Homo sapiens: one gene and its partners. The protein of the gene in region 4 purifies or fractionates together with the protein of the main gene of each other region. This does not show direct contact. Each region holds a gene or a part of one and is shown on either strand. Other genes may lie near its edges. The genes, in order: PHGDH, CPNE7, PCMT1 and METTL2A.

Region 1 (4,840 bases), on a different chromosome or scaffold from region 4:
AAAAACCTCAGAGTGAGCGAGCGTGCAAAAAGAGAAATCTCAAGCTGCTACTTCCGTGCTTTCACTTCACTAACTTCTAACACAAAAACATTCTCTCATCTCTACACATCACTAGGACATTGATCTCCATCTGAGGGTAAGGCTGAAGGTGGAATCTGTCCTCCATCACAGAGGCGCACGATCTTATGGGTAAACTCAGAAGAACTTCAGTACCAAGCCACATGGGGGACAAGCTGCATTCACCTCACTGCTCTGACCCATCAGGCAGGTAATAAGGACAGGGACTTGCCTTGAGGAACTGTTCACTTCTTGGGAAAGCTTGCCTGATAAAATGCCTTTGACCTAGTGAGACAGAGCCCCACCTGGCCCCTCTCTCCTCTCCCTCACATCCTATTTTCTTCCCACCAGACTCCACAGTGCTATCTAAGATGTATGCGTGCGGCACCACAGAACACAAGAAATCCCTAACCCTTTTCTCTGGCTGCTGCTCCCAGCTGATCATGGAGCCTCTCCAGGTTTCAATGCTTTGGAATCCTCATCAGGCCAGACTGGAGAGGACTCTAATGTGGGCGAGGGTCCTCACAATAATTAAATGGTTGCTGGCCTGACTTACTAGAGGAGGAGATGGTAAAGCAGGCAAAAATGGTGAAACCTACATTTGTTGATTCTCTCCTTCCTTCCTTTCTGTGTGCTGTTCTTCTGCACCTCAGGAGCCCCCGCCATCTGCTCAAAGTCCCTACTGTGAGGCCCAGCCACGCCTGCTCTCCACCCACATTGCCCAATCCTGTAGAGTCTACATATAGGCACCCACACTCTCCTACCGTCCTCCCTGCTAGGAACAGTCTGATGAAACGAACGCATTCCTTCCCAATAGGGTGTGCGTGTTTCCTAGTTTTGATGCACCTTTGATGAGTGAGGTCATGGTGAGCAGTTGACAATGGGGAGCTTCTTTTAAACCACAGCATTTCACCGATTCCTTTAAACAAAGCTGGTCCTGGAAAAGGAGGGAAAGTATTGCTGGCTCCCAATCCTTTCCTTCCACCTCCAGAAAAAAAGTGAGGTAATTAATCAGAAAGCCACATTGAGATCTTTTCCCTTACTCAAAAAAAAAAAAAAAAATCCCTGAAGGTAATAGCTGAAGTGAAACCAGGGTGCCAGGCTTCTGTACTTCTCCAGGGGGAGAGACACTCAGCCTAGATGTTCTGGGAGAACCCGGCTGCCAGCCTGGGGGCCCCTTCTAGGCTGAGACCCTACTGCTGTGTAAGCTATCCCTGTTTCTCCTTTCCCCCCACTGCCTCCTTTCACCTACCAGTGAATATCAGTGAATACCAGAGAGCTCAGATGGAAACTGCAGGGAGGAGTTAGAGCAGAGGTAAATTCCCCCAGATCCTCCTCCAGCAGGAGGGAAAGCAGGTCTCGCCATGGGAAAAGTAATTTCTTGGTCCCGGAAGGTTTCAGGCCTGAGTAGAGAAACAAGGAGTCCTTGATGCCTAGGTCCGCTGGTTTAGGGAATCCATGGAGCTTCAAAGGGACCTAGAACAACTTCCTACCCTGTTTATTGGGAGCCTTGTTCTTCCCCTTGACCACATAAATGCTTGAATTGCCTGTTCAACAGAAGTGCTCCATGCAATCAGTTTTGCCAAATTACTAACCAACACACTGAGACTCAAGCACATTCTGTGCCACAACCATTTGATTTCTAGGCTGCCCCATCCACTCAAGAGGCCTGGAACTCCTGCTAGAAGAGCAAGAGTCTTGCCCATTTGAGTTCCATTGTGTTATGAACCCACAGAACACACAAGGACCCTGAAGCAGGTTCTTACTCCATTCTATTACAATACAGATTTGTAAGGGCAGTGACAGAGATAAGCCCTGAGGGCCAGGGGAATCAGTGAGGGACATAGCCTAGCTGGAAAAGCCAGAGAGCTTCTTGGATAAATTAATACTGAAGCTTAATCTTGAAAAGTAAGCAGAGGGTACCTAGACACTGTCCATACCCTGCTGCCTGGAACATCCTTCCTTGTTATCTCCAGGCAGCAGGGTATGGAGAACATTTGCAAGAGTTGGAGGCTAGAGAAGGCAGATTGTCTGCAGCATGGAGAATAGAACATGAGTAAAGAGAAGTGCACCTTTGTGCACTAGGGAACCTGTGTAATGAATGTTGAATAGAGGACCTGATGGCCTTAAAGGTTCTTTGCAGTCTGCATGTCGCCTTCTTAGCAGTCTGCAAGTCGCTGAGACGAAATGTTTCTAAGTTTTTCTGGGTCCATTTGCTTGGCAAGTGGTAATAATTGGCATATCGGAGAGACTAGCTTTGCTGAGAAGTCAGGGACTTACCTGGCCAGGCACATGATCATTCCACAAGTGAGTTCTGCGGCACTGAGGCTGTTCCCATTGGGGGTGCTAAAGATCAAAGAAAAGGGGGACATCAATGGGCACAGACCCAGTATTCCCACTCCTTCCCCAAGAGAAAGCCTTGAGTGCAGGCTGTGTTCTCTCACTCCTGCTCCATGAACTGACCACGCCACTGTCCAGAGTTCTCTGATGTACTCTCGCCCTAAGCCAAGGGCTGGAAAGAAACCCCCTTCCCCTGGCTTTATGTTTCCCTGCAGAGGGACCTCCATTAGAGAAACATATCTGGCTTCTCTCTATCCAAACACTCCTCCCAAGGCAGAGAAGTGTCTCACATGATCAGATTTGTGTGTGGTTCAGCCCTTTTCTTTCTCCTATTTCAGGATCTACCTGCCTCCAGAAAGCACAAATTCCCTGCTGCTCCTACCATTGATCTTACCAAGGTCAGAGTCTCTCGAATTCAGGGCTCAGTCCAATGCCTACATATCTTCATCAAGTTACCCAACCTGGCTTTTTTTTTTTTTTTTTGACAAGGCCTCGCTCTGTCACCCAGGCTGGAGTGTACTGGCATGATCACAGCTCACTGCAGCCTTGACTTCCCAGGGTTCAAGCAATCCTTCCAGCTCAACCTTCTCAGTAGCTGAGACTACAGGCTGGTGCCAACATACCTGGCTTTTCTTTCCTTCTTTTTTTTTTTTTGTATTTTTGTAGAGATGGGGGTCTCACTTTGTTGCCCAGGCTGGTCTCAAACTCCTGGGCCCAAGTGATCCTCCCACCTTGGCCTTCCAAAGTGCTGGGATTACAGGTGTGAGCCCCCACACGCAGCCCCAACCTAGCTTTTATTAGTAATCTCCACCTGTCTGACTACTCTTCCTATCTCTCAACAAGTTCTGAACTGAGAAAGCCTCCTCACACCCTAAGTCACAGGGCAATCCAGACCCTTCCCATTTTATAAACAAAAAAATAGAGGTGGCAACCCACAAAACTATTTTTCTTTTCTTAAATGCTTTTTAGGTTTTTGAAAGAATTTCATATACGTGTTCACCCTGATTATTCCCCTACTGGGTCTGTCTTTTTCATCTCTGGAATGAAGGTTAATAAGGTTACAAGAAGAAAAAGTCAAGAGATCCTGTATAAGATAAACGGACTCTCAGAGTCTGTCTGCCTGCAAAACCACCTGGCTTCTCATCCTCCCACAGCAAACAGGCTGTATGGGGGCGCAAGTAGAGGTGCAGAGATTGGGGCCTGGCTGCCTCTGGGTCCAAGGCAAGAATGTGGGATGGGTTATCGTTTAACATTTCTGCTGTTGAATATTGACTTCAGTCAGGTGACCAATTAACCTCTACCCTACAGGGGGAAGTGCAGTGCAGGGGAGGGGAAAGGTCTTAAGGACAATGAAGTCCCCAAGGGAAGAGAAAAGTCTTAAGAACAAAGAGGCCTGGGGATGGCCTTGCCATACCATCTAAGTGACAGAACGGGTACAGTACAGCACTGGCGTGCTGATGACCTCTGCCCCTGTGTTTCTGCAGAAACAGCTTTAAATGGGACCCTTCTCCTCTTGCCCTAGAGCACTGAAAGAGAAACTAGTGTCTTAGTTCCAGAAGGTGGCAGGGAAGTGGGGAGGGCAAGGATTCTAGTCATTAGTCTGCTAGCAAAGGTTGTGCCTCTGTACAAGCACAGTAAAGTAGAGCTGACAAAAACCTGCCACAAACAGCATTAATAGAGGCAGAGGGGGCTGGGTGGGAGCAGGAAATGCAGATGAACTCACTGACCTTCCGATTCCTGAACCAGGTCACAGAGGTGCAAGCAACTGCGCATGGGGTGGGCTCGTGAAACATTTTGAGATTATGCAGGGACTCTCAATTTCAAAAACTGTGTAACACCCTGATGGCATTGGTGATATAGTGGTGAGCATAGCTGCCTTCCAAAAACCTTGAAACCACTATGCTGTGTGTGTTGACCATGCAGGCCCTAGACCAGGCATCCTCCTGGAAGCCCTTCCAATGGACTCAGCTTTCTCTCAAGTGAGTTTTTTCTCCCTAGGTGTGGTCAGTCTCCGCACTCACCCCCCTACCCCCAAACCGCCCGCAGCCTCCATGACTTACTTCATAACCAAGATGCCCTTCCTTGTTGCGGCCTCCAGATCCACATTGTCCACACCTGTGCCAGCCCTGCCCACCACCTGGAGTTTCTCAGCTGCGTTGATGACATCAGCGGTCACCTTGGTGGCAGAGCGAACAATAAGGCCTTCACAGTCCTGAAGCAGAAAAAACATTTGGGTCCAGAAAGTCATTCTGTGAGAACTCGTAAAGCCGCAGGCACATCATTGCTTACTCCTGAGTAAGAGATGCATTTCCGGAACCTTAGGAAGTCACTGATGACTGCCAGTTCATAGATATCTTTGGTATACTCACTAGGGAAATGTGGGCTAGGACTCATGCTGATTTTTACTTAGAGTGGAGGAGACTGTGCCTCTAACACACCAACC
Region 2 (4,840 bases), on a different chromosome or scaffold from region 4:
GGTTAGGTGTGATCAGGTGTCGTGGCTGCTTAAAAAGAGGCTTATCTTTATTAGACGCTGATACTGACATTTACAGATGAAACCGTCTGAGACCCGCTTCCCAGCCACACAGGAACATAACAGCTGAACGCAATCCTCGACTCCGGACTGGCTCCTGGGCCAGGAACAATACTGCTTTGAAAGTTATGATTGTGCCAATGAATGAAATTGGAATATAGTCTATGTATTAGATAAAAGGATTGTATCTAAATTCAATTTCCTGAAATCTGTATTTGTGCTATGGTTATACAAGAGAATATCTTTGATCTTAGGAAATATACACTGAAATAGTAAGAGGTAGGCCGGGCGCGGTGGCTCACGCCTGTAATCCCAGCACTTTGGGAGGCCGAGGTGGGCGGATCACGAGGTCAGGAGATCGAGACCATCCTGGCTAACACAGTGAAACCCCGTCTCTACTAAAAATACAAAAAATTAGCCGGGCGTGGTGGCGGGCGCCTGTAGTCCCAGCTATTTGGGAGGCTGAGGCAGGAGAATGGCGTGAACCCGGGAGGCGGAGCTTGCAGTGAACCAAGATCGCGCCACTGCACTCCAGCCTGGGTGAAGAGCGAGACTCCATCTCAAAAAAAAAAAAATATTAAGAGGTAAAACCGTGATGTTGCAACGTGCTCTCGGACGGTTCACAAATGTGTGTGTGCAGTGCCAAGTTTTTTAAAAAGCATCAAAGTCTTTATCACGATACTATCTGTATAAATTAAAAATAGATGCAAACAGATATAGGGTTCCCATTTGGCTTGAAGATGTAAGTAGACGGGTGATGTTTGATCATCATGAATGTACCTCGTGCCTCTGAACTGGATACAATAAAATGGTTACAGGCCAGGTGCGGCGGCTCACACCTGTAATCCCATCCCAGCACTTTGGGAGGCTGAGGCAGGCAGATCACTTGAGGTCAGGAGTTTGAGACCAGCCTGGCCAAGACAGTGAAACCCCATCTCTACAAAAATATAAAAATTAGCCGGGTATGGTGGCGGGCGCCTGTACTCCCAGCTACTCAGGAGGCTGAGTCAGGAGAATGGCGTGAACCCGGGAGGCGGAGCTTGCAGTGAGCCGAGATCACGTCACTGCACTCCAGCCTGGGTGACAAGAGTAAAACTCCATCTCAAAAAAAAAAAAAAAAAAAGAAAAGAAAAAAATGGTTACAATGGTAAATTTTAAACTGTGCATATTTTATCACAATAAAAAAAATTTGGGCTGGGCGCGGTGGCTCACTCCTGTAATCCCAGCACTTTGGGAGGCCGAGGCGGGTGGATCACAAGGTCAGGAGTTTAAGACCAGCCTGGCCAAGACTGTGAAACCCCGTCTCTACTAAAAATACAAAAAATTAGCCGGGCGTGGTGGCGGGAGCCTGTAATCCCAGCTACTCGGGAGGCTGAGGCAGGAGAATTGCTTGAACTCGGAGGGTGGAGCTTGCAGTGAGCCGAGATTGCACCACTACAGCTTGGGTGACAGAGCAGGACTCTATCTCAAAAAAAAAAAAAAAAATTGAAAAAGAAAACATACAAATACAACAACTACACAGACGTGAAGCAGGAGCGCAATGTGTGAGCAGCTGTTGGCCTCACGGGTTGCAGGACCTCAGAGCTCTTGTAACTTTTTGGTGAGTTTAAAATTATTTTGGGCCGGGCGCGGCGGCTCACACCTGTAATCCCAGCACTTTGGGAGGCCGAGGCGGGTGGATCACGAGGTCAGGAGATCGAGACCATCCTCGCTAACACGGTGAAACCCCGTCTCTACTAAAAATACAAAAAAAAAAAATTAGCCGGGCATGATGGTGGGCGCCTGTAGTCCCAGCTACTTAGGAGGCTGAGGCAGGAGAATGGCGCGAACCTGGGAGGGGGAGGTTGCAGTGAGCGGAGATTGCGCCACTACACTTCCAGCCTGGGTGACAGAGCGAGACTCCGTCTCAAAAAAAAAAAACAACAAAAAAAAGAATGCCGGGCACGGTGGCTCACGCCTGTAATCCCAGCACTTTGGGAGGCCGAGGCGGGTGGATCATGAGGTCAGGAGTTTGAGACCAGCTTGGCCAACAGGGTGAAACCCCGTCTCTACTAAAAATACAAAAATTAGCCAGAAGTGGTGGCGGGCGCCTGTAGTCCCAGCTCCTTGGGAGGCTGAGGCAGGAGAATGGCGTGAACCCCGGGAAGCAGAGGTTGCAGTGAGCTGGGATCACATCACTGCACTCCAGCCTGGGTGACAGAGTGAGACTCTGTCTCACAAAAAACAAAAGAAAAGAAAAGAAAGCAGCAGGCTGGCTGTGGCCCCAGAGACACATACAGGGCCACACGGTGGCAGAGTAGAATCCAGTGCAGTTCTCGGCACCGTATCATTTGTGCAAAGGAAAGACACATGTAAACAAAATGACGATACACACACAGCCAAACAGTAGACATGTGCGCGGCCTTGTGGTGCCCAGAGGAAGAGGAGAGGGGCAGCCTCGCTGCAGCCATGGCCGTGACCGTGTGAGGCGATGGACAGCCCTGTGCCCGAGACACCTGCACCTTTGAGGGAGACGTAGTCAACCAGCTGGGCCCCCGCCCTCCTGAGCTCTGTCCTGCCTGGGGGCCTCTGCGCTGGCTGTTCCCTCTGCCAGGTGCCTCCCTGACGTCCACGCGCTGGTGCACACACAGCCGACCCCACACCAAGCATGCACCACACCCCCCGGGCACCTACAGAGGCTTTCCCGGTGCTCTCCTCGGCCGCCGCCACGCGTGCCACCTTGGAGATGATGGGCGCCACGTTGGTGGGGCCGTAGAGCTGGACCCTGGGCAGGCAGTTCTGGTAGGCCTCCACCACGCCCTGGATGCCTGTGGGGGGCAGGGGGTGAGCCCGGCCCCCCTGCACTCCCCTCCCCAGGCCTGCCTCGAGCTCCTACCTTCACACTCATCGTCCTCAGGGTTGAAATTGATGGCAAAGTCATGGGACACCTGGGTGGGAACAAGAGGGCTCAGTCAGCTGCTCGTTGCAACACACCCCACTGGCCCCATGTCCCTCGGTCAGCTGCTCCCCCCGTCCCCAGCCCCCATGTCCCCCAGTCAGCTGCTCCCCCCGTCCCCGCCCTCATGTCCCCCGCCTACTAAAGAGGGCTCGGTCAGCTGCTCCCCCCGTCCCCGGCCCCCATGTCCCCCAGTCAGCTGCTCCCCCCGTCCCCGGCCCCCATGTCCCCCAGTCAGCTGCTCCCCCGACCTGGCCCCCATGTCCCCCACCTACTGAGAGAGGTAGGCTTGGAGTTTCTAGGGGAAGCCAAACCCATGGGTGACCATGTTCTGCAGAGTCATGAAACAGAGAGGGAGGCAGACCTCCCTGGATCCAGCAGTGCCTGAGGCTTACATTAGCCAATAAATCCCCACACACCATTTTTTCTGCTGAAGCCAGTTGAAGTTTTTTGTTGTTTTCTTTTTTCTTTTTTAAAACAGAGTCTTGCTCTACAGGCCAGGCTGGACTGCAGTGGTGCGATCTCAGCTCAGTGCAACCTCTGCCTCCCGGGTTCAAGCAATTCTCTTGCTTCAGCCTCCCGAGTAGCTGGGATTACAAGCATGTGCCACCACGCCCAGCTAATTTTTGTATTTTTGGTAGAGATGGGGTTTCACCATGATGGCCAGGCTGGTCTGGAACTCCTGACCTCAGGTAATCGGCCCGCCTCGGCCTCCCAAAGTGCTGGGATTACAGGCGTGAGCCACCACGCCTGGCCGAAGCTAGCTGAATTGTTATGTGCAATAGAGGATTCCACACTAACGTCCTTCCCTATCTCCTGAAGGAACACGGAGTTGGCCTCCAGACACCCCTCAAGCTAACAAGTCCTAGGAGGCCAAAGGCCAGCCTCTCTGGCTAGAAGGCTGGGGTTCCCGCTTTGCACCCCAATCCCATCCTACAGTCTCCGGTTCCCAGCAGGCAGCCAGGGCTCCCTGGGCCAGGCCGTCCTCTGCCTGGGAGGGCACGAGAAGGGCACAGCTCTGAGGTCTCAGGTTCTGGGCTCTCCTACCTCATACTTGGGAGGGATCCGGGCTCCAAACCCCAAAGCGGAAAACCTCTTGTCACTGGAAGAGAGGCAGGAGGTCACCAGGAGGCCCTGACCTCTTGTGGCTGCAACAGGGGCCACTTCTAGGGAGACATGACTGGCGCCCAAAAGACTGGGGGTGCCCAGGCCTGGTACCACGGCAGTAAGCACCTGCCAGAGGTGGGGAACCGAGGCTCAGGGCAGCAGAGGCACAGGCCTGTGTGCAAGGGGACACGGTCCTGCCGCCCGCGAGCCTGCCTCCCAACTCCACGTTTGTGTACATGCTGTCCCCCTGCAGACGCCTCCCCGGGGGCTCTCAGACCACGGGAGGGGTCCTGTGGGGCCAAGGAACCCACTGTGGCCCTCACCAACCCAGAAAGAGAGGTCTGTAGGGTAGGGAGCTCAGGGCATCCTCTCCCAAGCCCCAGGCCAGGGGTCTGTGTTGTGGTAAGAAGCTCAGAGCACAGGGTTTTGTGCCGGGCCCTCCCTGGTAAAGCATACGCGGGTGAGCCCCAAGCCTCTGTGACTTCGGTTTGCTATTCTGGCAAAGCGGGACACAGACGTCCCCCCAGGACCATGTGCAGAGTCTATGCGGCAGCCTCCAGTAGGGCTACCCAGCCCTTCCTCGCAGAGTCTCTTTTTTTTGAGACGGAGTCTTGCTCTGTCACCCAGGCTTGAGTACAAAGGTGTGATCTTGACTCACTGTAACCTCCGCCTCCCGGGTTCCAGTGATTCTCCTGCCTCAGCCTCCTGAGTAGCTGGGATTACAGGCATCTGCCACCACGC
Region 3 (4,840 bases), on a different chromosome or scaffold from region 4:
CACTTCCCAGACGGGGTGGCTGCCAGGCGGAGGGGCTCCTCACTTCTCAGACGGGGCGGCTGCCGGGCGGAGGGGCTCCTCACTTCTCAGACGGGGCGGTTGCCAGGCAGAGGGTCTCCTCACTTCTCAGATGGGGCGGCCGGGCAGAGACGCTCCTCACCTCCCAGACGGGGTCGCGGCCGGGCAGAGACGCTCCTCACCTCCCAGACGGGGTCGCGGCCGGGCAGAGGCGCTCCTCACATCCCAGACGGGGCGGCGGGGCAGAGGCGCTCCCCACATCTCAGACGATGGGCGGCTGAGCAGAGACGCTCCTCACTTCCTAGATGGGATGGTGGCCGGAAAGAGGCGCTCCTCACTTCCTAGATGGGATGGCGGCTGGGCAGAGACGCTCCTCATATCCCAGACGGGGTGGCGGCCGGGCAGAGGCTGCAATCTCGGCACTTTGGGAGGCCAAGGCAGGCGGCTGGGAGGTAGAGGTTGTAGCTAGCCGAGATCACGCCACTGCACTCCAGCCTGGGCACCATTGAGCACTGAGTGAGCGAGACTCTGTCTGCAATCCTGGCACCTCGGGAGGCCGAGGCTGGTGGATCACTCCGGTTAGGAGCTGGAGACCAGCCCGGCCAACACAGCGAAACCCCGTCTCCACCAAAAAAATACGAAAACCAGTCAGGTGTGGTGGCGCGCGCCTGCAATCGCAGGCACTCGGCAGGCTGAGGCAGGAGAATCAGGCAGGGAGATTGCAGTGAGTTGAGATGGCGGCAGTACAGTCCAGCTTCGGCTCGGCATCAGAGGGAGACCGTGGAAAGAGAGGGAGACCGTGGGTAGAGGGAGACCGTGGGGAGAGGGAGAGGGAGAGGGAGCGGGAGCGGGAGCTGGCTGTTTTCATTGATAAAATAGTTATAATTTTTTTTTTTTTTTGAGACGGAATCTCGCTCTGTCACCCAGGCTGGAGTGCAGTGGCGCCATCTTGGCTCACTGCAACATCCACCTCCCGGGTTCAAGCGATTCTCCTGCTTCAGCTTCCCAGTAGCTGGGATTACAGCCGCCACCACGCCCGGCTAATTTTTTGTATTTTTAGCAGAGACAGGGTTTCATCATGTTGGGCAGGCTGGTCTTGAACTCCTGACCTTAGGTCATCTGCCCGCCTCGGCCTCTCAAAGTGCTGGGATTACAGGTGTGAGCCACCATGCCCGGCCCAAATGTTTTTAAATCTTTGACATAATTTCTGACTTACAGAAATATTATGCAGATAGTACAGTTCCTGTGTACTTTTGTCCACACAGTCTTACCATTGGTAAAGCAAATCTCACCATTTGCTTTATCATTTATTCTCTCTCCCTTTATCCCCTCTCTCCTCTGTGTGTGTGTGTGTGTGTGTATGTGTGTGTATTATATTTCCGTTTTTCTGAGCTCTTTGAGGGTAAATTACAGGCATAATGCTCTTTACCTTTAACTTTTTTTGAGATGGAGTCTTGCTCTGTCGCCCAGGCTGGGGTGCAGTGGTGCAGTGGCACGTTCTCAGCTCACTGCAAGCTCCGCCTCTCGGGTTCACGCCATTGTCCTGCCTCAGCCTCCCAAGTAACTGGGACTACAGGCGCCCACCACCACGCCCAGCTAATTTTTTGTATTTTTAGTAGAGATGGGGTTTTACTGTGTTAGCCAGGATGGTCTCGATCTCCTGACCTCGTGATCCGCCTCGGCCTCCCAAAGTGCTGGGATTACAGGTGTGAGCCACTGTGCCCGGCCAATGCTCTTTACCTTTAAAAATAAGGACATTCTCTTACATACCCATAGTACAATTTTTGAAATCTGGAAGTCAGCATTGATATAACACTATTAGCCAATTTATAGACCTTATTCAGATTTCATCAATTATTCTGATAATATTCCTTATAGGAAAAGAAAATAGTAGATTGTGAGTTTTATTTGATTGTCATGTCTTTTTAGTTTCCTTTAAAGAATGACTGAGAAATGGTTCCTTATTCTTTTATGACCTTGAAAACCTTGAAAATTTTTACGAATATGGGCCATTTATTTTGTATAATGTCCCTCAATTTGGGTTTGTTTGATGTTTCCTCATAATTCAATATAGGTTATGCATTTTTGCCTGGCATATCCCAGAAATGAAGTATCTTAGCAGAGGCATTTGATGTCAGTGTGTCCCATAATTGTGGTGTTAACTTTGATCATCTGATTAAGGTAGTGTTGACCCAGTTTTTCCACTGGAGAACTTTTTTCTGAACTCCATTGTAAAATTACTATTTTTCCTTTTGTGATTAATAATTATCTGGGGCAAACCCTTTGAGATTATGTAAATATCCTGTTTATTTTTCAAATGTTAGTCCACTAGTTTTAGCTTCCATTTATGATTTTTACCTGAATCAATCAGTTATTATTGAGATGGCTGCCCAAAGGCTGATTTTCTTAATTTTTTCTATGTGCATTCATTATGTATCTATATATTTGTTGGGAACGGTTTTCCCTATTTTTCATTTATATATGTATAGAATGATGTATTAATTTATCACTATAGATTAATGGATGGGTATTTTTATCAACCAAGATCTGGTAGTAAATGTGTTTACTGCTATTGGATCTGATTTTTTTTTTTTTTTTTTTTTTTTTGAGATGGAGTCTCGCTCTGTTACAGCCCAGGCTGGAGTGCAGTGGCATGATCTCGGATCACTGCAATCTCCCCGTCCCGGGTTCAAGCAGTTCTCTGCCTCAGCCTCCCGAGTAGCTGGGATTACAGGTGGCTGCCACCATGCCCAGCTAATTTTCTTGTATTTTTAGTAGAGATGGAGTTTCACCATCTTAGCCAGACTGGTCTTGAACTCCTGACCTCGTGATCTACCTGCCTCAGCCTCCCAAAGTGCTGGAATGTCAGGCCTGAGCCACCACGCCCAGCCTGATCTGATTATTTTTAATAATGAGAATACTGGCTGGGTGTGGTGGCTTATGTATGTCATCCCAGCACTTTGGGAGGCCGAGGTGGGCGGATCACCTGAGGTCGAGAGTTCGAGACCAGCCTGACCAACATGGAGAAACCTCATCTCTATTAAAAATACAAAATTAGCCTTTGTATTTTTGTATTTGCTTATATATGCAAAGAATCTATTCCTTCCTTTTTGGAAGGAGTCACAAGAAACTAGTAATATTGGTTACCTTTACAGAGTGAAACCTGGATGGTTGGAAATGGGAGTAGGGTGGAGACTTTTCACTTATAAATCTTTTAATTTTTTTACTGAATTAATTAAAAGTTAAAAATTCACACACTGGAGGTCTAAAATTACTGAAACACATGATCTGAATGTAAGAATTCTAATCAAACAGTTTACTTAAGTAATACCTGGGCAGATAGCCAAGATAACTTGGTTATCTTGGTAGATGACAATAGTAGAAAAATTGGTAGAAAGTTGGCAACTTTATTTATATACCATGATGTGTGTACTTTAGTCTTAATGAATATTTTGTTTTCTTTTGGCAGCATGCATATGCGCTAGAACTTCTATTTGATCAGTTGCATGAAGGAGCTAAAGCTCTTGATGTAGGATCTGGAAGTGGAATCCTTACTGCATGTTTTGCACGTATGGTAAGAGTTTTATTTCTCACTCTGGCCCCAACAGAAGAATATTATATGATTTGGCTGTATGTTTTTTTAACTAGTGGTTTTCATGTTTATTTGTTTGTTAATTCTATTAGGATAGCAGTTGGAATGAGCATCACTTAGGATTTTGTTGTTGTTGCAAGTGACAGAACATGCAACCCAAACTGGCAGAGCTAAAAGGGAGTTTATTTAGTTCATATAACAGAAAAGTCTAGGGGTGTATACGGTCTGTTGTGTGGCTGGATTTAGAAGAGCAGATGTTGTTATTGACGATAGGGTTCTCTCTGTTTCTTGATTTGGCTTTACTTTCCTCCACATGTTGGTGTCATTATCCGGTAAGCTCTACCCTTGTAATCACAAGATGGTGGCCAGTAGCTCCCAAACTACCTTCTTCCAAGTTCTGATTTGGCAGAAAAGAATAGAATAAGCCTGGTTTTCTTTTCTTTTTTTTTTTTTTTTCTTCTTAAAAACAGAGGTTTTATTGCATTTGGTCCACAGTTGGTATTTCACCTTATCTCATGGTGCAGGGACCCTGGGTAGGGGACTCTCTACAGTACTTGGTGGGGCATGTGGCTGGGGGAGACAGAGCAGTATAGCTGGTCAGGCCCAGAAGGGGAGAAGGAAGGCTGGAGGCTCCTTAAAACCTACTGAGGGACCAGACGCGGTGGCTCACACCTATAATCCCAGCACTTTGGGAGGCTTAGGCAGGCAGATCACATGAGGCCAGGAGTTCGAGACCAGCCTGGCCAACGTGGTGAAACCCCATCTCTACTAAAAATAGAAAAATTAGCCAGGCATGGTGGAGCACCTGCAGTCCCAGCTATTCAGGAGGCTGAGGCAGGAAAATCCCTTGAGCCCAGGAGGTGGAGGTGCAGTAAGCCTTGATTGCACCACTGCACTCCAGCCTGGGCAACAACAACAACAACAAAAACCTACTGAGGCACAGTGTGGGGGGTGGGCTTAGCATGGAGAGGGGGTCAGGCTTAGCCCCGACAACTCAGAATTCTACTTCCTTGTACAGGCCTCAGTTTCCCCACCGGGCCCTGGGACATGTCTGAGGGTCCCAGGGAAATCCAGTCACTCAGGAGCCTGAGATATTTAGCATCGTAGCTGGGCCCCGTCTCCCAGGGGACTCATTTCCCAGCACCCTCTCCACTGTCCCTGCCCAGAATGAGCCTGGTTTCTAAACATTCCTGCAGATTTACCAGGATGAAGGTAAAACTTCTGCATTAG
Region 4 (4,840 bases):
GTGAACCCAAGAGTTTGAGGCCAGCCTGGGCAACATGGGGAGATTTTGCCTCAAGAAAAAAAAGAAAAAAGAAATATATCCCTCTTTGTGAAGTAGCAACAGTTACATTTAAAATTTAAAACAAGATAATCTTTTCTTTAGGCTATGTTAATATTTTCTAACTTACCTGTGTCTTCCATCTGTCTGCAGACAAATTCAGAATATGATCCTTCTCGGTGTTTTGCCTTTGTTCACGACCTGTGTGATGAAGAGAAGAGTTACCCAGTGCCCAAGGGCAGTCTTGATATTATCATTCTCATATTTGTTCTTTCAGCAATTGTTCCAGACAAGTAAGTTTGGGTCCCTTGGCTGGTAGTGTCACAAAAAGGAAGCTTTGGTGAGGGACCTTTTTTTTTAAAATAGGTTCTTGCTCTGTCAGCCCAGGCTGGAGTGCAGTGGCACGATCATGGCTCACTGCAGCCTTAACCTCTTGGGCTTAAATGATCCTCCCTCCTCAGCTTCCCAAGTAGGTGGGACCACAGGCACGTGCCACCAGTCCTGGCCAATTTTTGTGTTTTTAGCAGAGATGGGGTTTTGCCATGTTGCCCAGACTGGTCTTGAATTCCTGGGCTCAAGCGATCCTCCCACCTTGGCCTCCCAAAGTGCTGGGATTATAGGTGTGAGCCACCATGCCCAGCCTGGCGAGGGACCTTGATATTAGAGTTGGGCTCAAAGTAAAAAGAGTTTTGTTTATGTTCTGATAGACACAAAGAAGCCACACCATTTGTAGTGATGTGAGCATCTCAGCCATTTTCCTAAATTTGTCTTGATGTCCAACTTCTGTTCTGGCCTCGAAACTTCTGCAGTAGTTGGTTCTTCATTTCCTTGTTGTGGCTCAACATTGGGAAAGAATGGGAAATCAGTCTCTAATGAGTATGTGGGGAAATTCCTATTGATAGTCTCATCACATGCCGTTTTAGAACTGTGAACTGTGGGTGTCACAGCTCTTAGGTAATGTCTCATTATTGGATTTTTATTTTATTTTATTTTATTTTTTTGAGATGGAGTCTTGCCCTGTCGCCTGGGCTGGAATGCAATGGCGTGATCTAGGCTCATTGCAACCTCCACCTCCCCGGTTCACACAATTCTCCTGCCTCAACCTCCCGAGTAGCTGGGATTACAGGCACCTGCTACCATGCCCAGCTAATTTTTGTATTTTTAGTAGATGCGGGGTTTCACCATGTTGGCCAGGCTGGTCTTAAACTCCTGACCTTGTAATCTGCTTGCCTCAACCTTGCAAAATGCTGGGATTACAGGCATGAGCCACTATGCTGGCCTTTTTTTTTTTTTTGAAGACGGAGTCTTGCTCTGTTGCCCCGGCTGGGGTGCAGTGATGAGATCTTGGCTCACTGCAACCTCCACCTCCCGGGTTCAACCAATTCTCCTGCCTCAGCCTCCCAAGCAGCTGGGATTACAGGTGTACGCCACCATGCCTGGCTAATTTTTGTATTTTTTTTTTTTAGTAGAGATGGTGTTTCACCATGTTGGCCAGGCTGGTCTCAAACTCCTGACCTCATGACCTCATGATCCGCCCGCCACGGCCTCCCAAAGTGCTGGAATTACAGGCGTGAGCCACCACGCCCAGCCTATTGGCCTTTTAAATGCTTTAAATAAAACAACCTTATTAGCAACATGAAATTTACATTGAACCTTAACTAAGGTGTTCTCTGATGCTTACAGTGTTTTAGGAAAGTGTGATACAGAATTCTATAAAATCAGATTCAGATTAAAGGAAAGTCAAATGCTATATCCTAAAATACACCATTAAAACTTCATATGCATAGGTAACCAGTGGTCCTGTGACACTACCTTCTCTTTTTTTTTTCTGAGATGGAGTCTCACTCTGTTGCCCAGGCTGGAGTGCAGTGGTGAGATTTCAGTTCACTGCAACCTCTGCCTCCAAGGTTAAAGCGATTCTCCTGCCTCAGCCTCCCGAGCAGCTGGGATTACAGACAAGCACCACCACACCTGGCTAATATTTTTTGTATTTTTAGTAGAGACGGGGTTTCACTATGTTGGCCAGGCTGGTCTTGAACTCCTTACCTCAAGTTATCCACCCACCTCGGCATCCCAAAGTGCTGGGATTACAGGCATGAGCCACTGCAACCTGACCAAAACTACCTTCTCAAGGAAGCAGAGTCAGATGGTGGCTCAGAGATTCAGATACCATTGACTAATTCCATGGAAGCCCTTGGCACTGCCAGAGTGCAGTGAGTCTGGACAGGCTGGGGGTTGGCACATGTTAGGGTAAACTATACCCATGAAATCATGAGATTAGAGACTTCAAACATCTCCTCATTCTGTGTCATCAGAGTCCTGCAAAGGATGATTAAGTAAGTTAGTGTTAAAGGTCAAGGTAAGCTGGTGTTAGGAAGCCAGATTACATGACTAGAGACTGCAGGGACCAGTGATTGAGATCCTGGTTTATCTCCCAGAGTCCAAGGACCCCTCACTGGCTGCACAGGATAGGAGCTTTGGGTGATTGACCTTCCTCTAGAAGGCCACACTTCCTCTAGAAGGGTACTGAAGTCATCCAACCTGAGAGGATGAGTGTGAAATAAAGGCATATGCAGGATAACCCAAAAGGCCTACCATGGTTTTAAACTTTAATAATTGCAGAGGTTGACCAGGCACAGTGGCTCACGCCTATAATCCCACCACTTTGGGAGGCTGAGGTGGGAGGAGTGCTTGAAGCCAGGAGCTCAAGACCAGCTTGGGCAACAAAGCAGGACCGTTATCTCTACTAAAAATAAAAATAAAAAAATTTAGCCAGGTGCATATCTGTAGTCCCAGCTACTCAGAAGGCTGAGGCAGGAGTATGGCTTAAGCCCAGGAGTTTGAGGCTGCAGTGAAGTGAGCTACGATCACACCACTGCACTGCAGCCTGGGTGACAGAGTGAGACCCTGTCTCAAAAAAAACCTATGACCTTAGAAGTTTCAATGCTACAAACTTTTTAAAAATTGACATGGACTAAAACAAATTATTAAAATTTAAAATTCAAGCCAGACACAGTGGCACACACTTTTAGTCCCAGCTACCTAGAGACTGAGGCAGGAGGATCACTTGAGCCCAAGAGTCCAGCCGAGGCAACATAGCATAGCAGGACCCCAGCTGTTTTTTGTTTGTTTGTTTGTTTTCTGAGATGGAGTTTCACTCTTGTTGCCCAGGCTGGAGTGCAGTGCTATGGTCTTGGCTCACTGCAATCTCCGCCTCCCAGGTTCAAGCGATTCTCCTGCCTCAGCCTCCCAAGTAGCTAGGATTACAGGTGCCTGCCACCATCCCTGGCTAATTTTTTTGTATTTTTAGTAGAGACAGGGTTTCACCATGTTGGCCAGGCTGGTCTCGAACTCCTGACCTCAGGTGATCTGCCTGCCTTGGCCGTTTTTTTGTTTTTTGGTTTTTTTTAAGAGGGAAACATTCATTATGCAAAATTTAAATAGACTTTGAAATTTTTTTGGTGAAGTTTGTAGCATTTAGACTTCTGAAGTTATGAAAGCTTCAACCTGCACCAAGACTTTTGAAGAACACTGCATATGGAAAACACAGACCTAAGTGTAAAACCCTCTGTCTGTTATACTCATTTGCATACTGATTGTATTGTAAGTTCTTGAGGACAAGTCTTCATTTAACAAACAGAAAGATACAGCCCCTACATTGAAAGAGCTCAGGTCTAATGATGCAGGCAGATAAGTCACCTAGCAGAACCCACTGGATGCTCAGGATTCAGCTCAGCCACAGGCGCACAGGGCAAAGATGGCTATCTAGGACAGTGGGGAAGTGAGCCAGATAGAGAGCAGAGAACTTTTGTTTGTTTGTTTGTTTTTTGGAGACAAAGTCTCAGTTACTCTGCGGCCCAGGCCGGAGGGCAGTGGTGCAATCTTGGCTCACTGCAACCTCCACCTCCCAGGTTCCAGAAATTCTCCTGCCTCAGCCTCCTGAGTGTCTGGGATTACAGGCACACGCCACCACACCTGGCTACTTTTTGTATTTTTAGTAGAGATGGGGTTTAACCATTTTGGCCAGGCTGGTCTCAAACTCCTGACCTCATGTGATCCACCTGCCTCAGCCTCCCAAAGTGCTGGTATTACAAGCATGAGCCACCGCACCCGGCCAGGAGCAGGGAACTTTCTTACGGCAGAAGCGGGCTGTCCTCGGGCCCCTTCAGGCTGAAGGCAGTGGATCGAGGCCACAGCTGTGAGCAGGCAGCTAATGTCCTTCAGTTCTAACTGAAGCAAGAGTAGAGGAGCTTAGATCTCAGACTTGGTGTGTCAGTTGAGGAAGTCCACTGGCTTTTTGGGATATGCTACAGGGAAAGAGAACCCCGTCTTTAAGGAGACCTGATTGACCGTCATTCCCTGCTGCTCCACAGGATGCAGAAGGCTATCAACAGGCTGAGCAGGCTTCTGAAACCTGGCGGGATGATGCTTCTGCGAGATTACGGCCGCTATGACATGGCTCAGCTTCGGTTTAAAAAAGGTATTTTGAAAGTGCTGAATCCTAACCACTAGAGATCATGTCCTTTGCAGGGACATGGATGAAGCTGGAAATCATCATTCTCAGCAAACTAACACAAGAACAGAAAACCAAACACCACTTTTTCTCACTCATAAGTGGGAGTTGAACAATGAGAACACATGGACACGGGGCGGGGGGCATCACACACTGGGGTCTGTCTGGGGGTGAGGGGGCTGGGAGAGGGATAGCATTAGCAGAAATACCTAATGTAGATGACGGGTTGATGGGTGCAGCAAACCTCCATGGCACATGTATACATATGTAATAAACCTGCACGTTCTGCAC

The links.
Region 1: the proteins of METTL2A (region 4) and PHGDH purify together in Homo sapiens (pull-down; one large-scale study listed by IntAct). This does not show direct contact.
Region 2: the proteins of METTL2A (region 4) and CPNE7 purify together in Homo sapiens (affinity purification with mass spectrometry; 2 studies listed by BioGRID and IntAct, with this or other methods). This does not show direct contact.
Region 3: the proteins of METTL2A (region 4) and PCMT1 purify together in Homo sapiens (pull-down; one large-scale study listed by IntAct). This does not show direct contact.

Annotation. Positions count from the first base shown.
Region 1 is NC_000001.11:119,720,939-119,725,778, reverse strand, and holds part of PHGDH (D-3-phosphoglycerate dehydrogenase), read right to left. Parts: intron 4,610-4,840; coding exon 4,458-4,609; intron 2,404-4,457; coding exon 2,338-2,403; intron 1,461-2,337; coding exon of another isoform or gene 1,330-1,460; exon of another isoform or gene 1,310-1,329; intron 995-1,309; coding exon of another isoform or gene 904-994; intron 1-903. UniProt on the Homo sapiens protein: Catalyzes the reversible oxidation of 3-phospho-D-glycerate to 3-phosphonooxypyruvate, the first step of the phosphorylated L-serine biosynthesis pathway.
Region 2 is NC_000016.10:89,589,151-89,593,990, reverse strand, and holds part of CPNE7 (copine-7), read right to left. Parts: intron 4,095-4,840; coding exon 4,040-4,094; intron 2,985-4,039; coding exon 2,933-2,984; intron 2,865-2,932; coding exon 2,731-2,864; intron 1,794-2,730; coding exon of another isoform or gene 1,791-1,793; exon of another isoform or gene 27-1,790; intron 1-26. UniProt on the Homo sapiens protein: Calcium-dependent phospholipid-binding protein that may play a role in calcium-mediated intracellular processes.
Region 3 is NC_000006.12:149,786,467-149,791,306, forward strand, and holds part of PCMT1 (protein-L-isoaspartate(D-aspartate) O-methyltransferase), read left to right. Parts: intron 1-3,487; coding exon 3,488-3,592; intron 3,593-4,840. UniProt on the Homo sapiens protein: Initiates the repair of damaged proteins by catalyzing methyl esterification of L-isoaspartyl and D-aspartyl residues produced by spontaneous isomerization and racemization of L-aspartyl and L-asparaginyl residues in aging peptides and proteins.
Region 4 is NC_000017.11:62,440,428-62,445,267, forward strand, and holds part of METTL2A (tRNA N(3)-cytidine methyltransferase METTL2A), read left to right. Parts: intron 1-189; coding exon 190-329; intron 330-4,409; coding exon 4,410-4,516; intron 4,517-4,840.